Linked DNA regions of Homo sapiens: region 2 is linked to region 1. A link means that fine-mapping ties the variant in region 1 to the expression of a gene that starts in the linked region. Tissue or cell type: fibroblasts. Region 1 holds a variant in brackets; the other region holds the start of a gene. All regions are shown on one strand. Distances are from middle to middle.

The links. PIP is the estimated chance that this variant, and not a neighbour inherited with it, causes the effect.
Region 2: it holds the start of RERG, and the variant in region 1 is fine-mapped to the expression of RERG in fibroblasts (GTEx, PIP 0.97).

The regions. Positions count from the first base shown.
Region 1 is chr12:15,294,159-15,296,848 of GRCh38, forward strand. All of the region lies in intron 2 of LOC105369673 (a long non-coding RNA gene), which reads right to left. Among named protein-coding and RNA genes, the nearest start is that of PTPRO, 27 kb to the right of the region's middle. The variant C/T (reference allele first, on the strand shown) is at 1,539.
Region 2 is chr12:15,219,840-15,222,529 of GRCh38, forward strand. RERG (RAS like estrogen regulated growth inhibitor) reads right to left here and starts at 1,578. Exons shown (of 5, transcript NM_032918.3): 1 at 1,356-1,578. It overlaps LOC124902886, which reads left to right and starts at 829. Exons shown (of 1, transcript XM_047429948.1): 1 at 829-2,139. The coding sequence starts at 1,406. The coding sequence ends at 1,723.

The DNA.
Region 1 (2,690 bases):
GAATGCCTTATTTGCAACACTAAAATTCATAGTAATTCTGACGCCTGTATTTTGTCATAGCTGCTGAAGTGGAATTTTGCCAACCGAGATATGAACAACATTGTTCTTAATGTATAGCAAGATCAAGGGACTTTTTCTTACTGATGTTTATTTTGATAAAATGTTATATAAAATGGGAAGCAGAGCAAGATGGCTGAATAGAAGCCACCACTGATCATCCTCCCCACAGGAATACCGAATTTAACAGCTGTTAATATCTTCATTAAAAAAGCACCTTCATAAGCACCAAAAATCAGACAAGTGATTGAAGTACCTAGATTTAACTTCATATCACTGGAAGAGGCCCTGAAGAGGGTAGGAAAGACAGTCTTGAATTGCCAATGCCACCCCTCCCCACTCCCTGGCAGCAGCCGTGTGGCACACAGAGGGAATGTGTGCACTTAGGGGAGAAAGTGCAGCAATTGTGGGTCCTTGCATTAGAACTCAGTGCTGCAAACACTGGTTGGAACTCAGTCAATGCCCATGGGGGGAGCATTTAGATTAGCCCTAGCCAGAGGGAAATCACCCATCTCATCAGCCAGTACTAGAGTTTTGTCAAGCCTCACCACCACAGGCTAAAGTGCTCTGGAGTTCTAAATAAACTTGAAAGACTGTCTAGGCCACAGTGACTGCAACTCCTATGCAAGCACTAGTGCTGTGCTGTGCTTGGAGCCAGTGGACTTGGTGGGCATGAGCCCTAATGAGACACCAGCAGAGGAAGCTAAGGGAGTTTTTGCATCACCATTCCCCAACATCAGGGCATGATTCACAGCTCCAAAAGAGACCAGTTTCTTCAACTTGAGGATAACAGAAAGAAGAGTAAAGAGGACTTTGTCTTGCAAATTGGATACCAGCTCAGCCACGGTAGGAGAGGGCACGGGACAGAGTCATAAGACCCACATTCCAGGCCCTAGCTCCTGGATGACATTTCTGGACACTTGCTCCCTTGCAAGGAAGGACCCAATCCTGCAGGATTTATTACCACCTGATGACTAAAGAGCCCTTGGTCCCTGAAAATCAGCAGCAGTACTTATGCAGTACTCACCATGGGACATGGGTTTGACTCTGGCATGCGCTGACTTCAGGTTTGATCCAGGACAGTTCCAGTGCTGGTGGCCACAGGAGTGATGTGTCACCCATCCCCCAGCTCTGGGTGTTCATCACAGAGAGAGACTAGGTTTGTTTGGGAAAAAGTAAAGGAAGAGTGCAAAAGTCTCTTCCTGGTAATCCAGAGAATTCTTCCAGATCTTATCCAAGATCACCAGGGTGATACCTCTGCCAATTGGTAAGAACCGCAGCATTACTGGACTTGGAGTACCCCCTAATGCAGATACAACTGTAGTGAACAAAAACTTAAATTCCAACACCCAAGTCCTTTTGAATACCTGGAAAGCCTTCCAAAGAAGAACAGTTACAAAAAAGTTCAGACTGAAAAGACTATAATAAAATACTGAACTCTTCAATGGCCAGACACCAACTAACAATCACAAGCATCAAGA[C/T]GATCCAGGAAAACATGACCTCACCAAACAAACTAAATAAGAAATCAGAAACAAATTCTGGAGAGACAAACATATGTTACCTTCCACACAGATAATTCAAAATAGCTGTGACAACATTTAGCTCTGTATTCCCACCTAAATCTCATGTCAAATTGTCATTCCCAGTGTTGGATAAAGGGCTTGCTGGAAGGTGACTGAATCATGGGTACAGACTTCCCTCTTTCTCTTCTCATGATAGAGTTCTCATGAGATCTGGTCATTTGAAAGTGTGTAGCCCCTCCCCTTTCTCTCTCTCTTCCTCCTGCAGGCCATGTAGGATGTGCCAGTTTCCCCTTCACTTTCCATCATAATCGTAAGTTTCCTGAGGCCTCCAGAGCCATACTTCCTGTACAGCCCGAGGGACTCTGAGTCAATGAAATCTCTTTTCTTTATAAATTACCCAGTCTCAGGTAGTTATTTATACTGGCTTGAGAATTAACTAATACAAGCTATTCTGAGAAAACTTAAAGAAATTCAAGGTAACATAAAGAAGGGATTCAGAATTCTAACAGATAAATTTAACAAAGAAATTGAAATAATTAAAAAGAATCAAGTAGAAATTTTGGAGCTGAAAAATGGAAGTGACCTACTGAAGAATACATCATGCCTACACGATCTAGAAAATAGCCTTAAAAGGAGAAATCTAAGAATTATTGGTTTTCAAGAGGAGGTAGAAAGATCTAGGTAGAAAGTTTATTCAAAAGGATAATAACAGATAACTTCACCAACATAGAGAAAGATATTTAATGCAAAAAAGTTATAGAAGACCAATATTTGAGTACAAGAAGGTTATAGAAAACCAAGAATATTTAACCCAAAGAAGATTAACTCAAGGCATTTAATAATCAAACTCCTAAAGGTCAAGGATAAGTAAAGGAGTCGAAAAGCAGCGAGAAAAAAGAAACAAGTAACATAAAGCGGAGCTCCAATACACCTGGCAGCAGACTTTTTAGTGGAAACTTTATAGGCCAGATGAGATTTGCATGACATATTTAAAGTGCTGAAGGAAAAAAAATAAAACTTTACTCTGGAATAGTACATCTGGCAAAAATATCCTCCAAACATGAAGGAGAAATAAAGACTTTCCCAGATAAACAAAAGCTGAGAGATTTC
Region 2 (2,690 bases), 74 kb before region 1:
AAAAATGACAAGTCACATTTTTTAGTAACTCCCAAATGGCCCCAGAGGCATAGGAATTTCACATAAGAAAGAGAAATTGTGTGGGCTATTTTTTCCATTTATAACCTAATAAAGATACAGCTGGTTATTGTCAACCTAATTTTATGTTTAGAAAAATCACTTAAAGGAAGACACAAAACTGACAGGAGTTCTTCAACATTTTATTTCTCACATGAAAATGTGAAAAGTTACATTTGACAAGATAGAAAACAAAAATAAATATGTAAATTGTTGTAATAAGTAAACTGTTGCCAAGTTTCTGATGTTCCAAATAATTCATAATCTGAGAGCTTCCATACGTGGATCTAAGAAAATCCATTTGTCCTAATGTTCTGCTGAAATATTCTGAGTAGGGCTGAAATTTGCCATTCACTTTTTATGTGGATGGTGCTTATTAGGACAAAAACATCTCAGCTGCTATCACTCTAAAGGTAAAATCATACCTATTTAGTTTGAAGGTGTAGGTTTTTTTTTCCCTAAACATAAATTAAAGGAAAAAGGAAAAACGCTAGCTAAAATCCTGTATTATTAGTGATGCATTCATTGATTTATTCCACACTTTCACGCTATGCACATACAAATAAAAGTAGTTCCCTTCGAAGAGCTTACACTCTGTTAGACCTATGATATTTAGATAACTGTAACCTTATTTACTTACTTATTTAAAGAAAGTTTTCATTCCTAATAAATCATTCTCAAGGCTATATTTATCAAGGTTCATGCTTTCTACTTCCTCTTGGGGGTGGGGCAAGCAAGCGTCTTTATAAGGTAATCATGCTTGGAACTTCTGTTTGCATGCGCTCATCAAAATCAAGTGTAGCTATTTAGGGAAGCAAAGACCCTAGTCTAGGCCTGGAAATGAGATTCTCTTCTTTTTTGGCCTCCCCTTCTCTGGTTCTGAAATCAAGTTTTCCTGGTCTCATTACTAGGAATTCTTCCTCTTCTTATCACTACGCAGTACCCACAGCAAACCAGGATAATTGTATAAGCCCCTTGGCTATTTAATGTTGCTCTGAACTCAACAGGTATCTTGCAAGAATAAACAAATCCATTGTGGACTGCAAGTCACTTGCTTTCAGGCTAGGGAGAAAATGCAGCCTTAAGTCAAAAGGGCATTTTCCCTCTCAGCTAGGAGAGCCCTGTCAAGATAGGCTGCTGGTGTTCACATCTCCCTCGCAGCGAACCCCAAAGCCGCCCTGGGAGGAGAACCCGGTGACCAAGAGGACCGACTCAGAGGCCGAGCGCGCTCAGGGCTCGGAATGGGTCTGCAGGAAGTCGTCCCGAAAGAGCTGCCTGGACACGTGCGTGACACTCACCTGTTCACACTCTCCAGGCCAGGAGAGCTACGGTCCTCTGCAAGTTCGGAATGGGTCCCCCAAGATCGCGAAGCCCTCCCACACTGCGCAGCCCAGGCTTCAGGTTGCGTTTGCGAGTTGCTGGGCTGCGGTCGTGGGTGGGACTCGCCGCAGAAGCAAGTGCCAGTGGCCCGGCGGGGGTCTCCTCACTCGCGCTCGCTCCGACTAGCGGCGGAGGGACTGCGGCAGGACGCGAGCTGAGCCCGGCCAAGGCCGCTGCGCTCAGCGGCCAGGATGCTGCAGTGCGGCGCTTCGGCGCCCCCTACTGGGGGCAGGGGCAGGCTCCTCCCGCCGCGCTGCCTCCCAGGCTTGCGAGCTTGGGTCTTTAACGTGCTGCACCCAAGACGGGCTTCCCTTTTTCACTGGTTATTTCCAAGCCTCCAGGCTCCCACCGAAGGGCGGCTTTCCTCGGTCAAAACCTTGCCTAAGAAAGCATCACTACGTGGTGTTTTCTATTCCTTATTTCAAATGATCCTCGCAATATCTCTTTGAAGTATCTTTAATTATCTCCATGATACCCAAGAGGAAACTGAAGGAGAAGGTAACGCAAGGCTAGTAAATGGCTGGAATGAAATCCAGACTGGATTGGGAACTGAGAGATGCTAGGAAAAACAAACAAGGAATTCAATTGAAATTCTATTCATATATTTGAGAAAGTTCCAAAAGCTTCTCGTCCTCCTTACAGGATCAGCATTTATAGGATTTGCATTGGAGTCATACTCCATTATGCTCAGACCCTAACAAAGACAATTAATATGCGAGCTGTGCTGGACCTGCTTTCATATCCCTCATCTGATTTGATTTTTACACCCTCTCTTCATGTAAGAACTAGTATTATAATTACTAGCCTTTCACAGATGAGGAGGTGAGCTTCAGAGAGGCTAAATGATCTCCCAAAAACTGAAACATCTGAGCAAAGAAGCAGGAGGCACTTATGTTATTGTTTTTCCCTTATAAATCTGGGTATTCTTACCAAGATACCAAACGGCTTCCAGAAAACCAGTGTTATATAGAACAGACAGGGGCCTAGGGCAAACTGAACGATCTGTAGAATGTCATCAATGGGAAGGGAGGTAACCATGGAGGCAATTTCCAGAGTCCAGACTGACCTGGAAGGTCACTGCAGCCACGAGTGAATGGCTGAATGGAACAGCTAGATCTATGGCAAAAAGAGGAGTTGCCTAGCTGAGCAGGAGCTGCCCTGCTGGTTCTTTGAGAAAGCTCAAACATTGTATGGTTTATGAGTTTCCTGATCACTAATGTACCCCTCCCTCCACACCACATACATCTGGATTA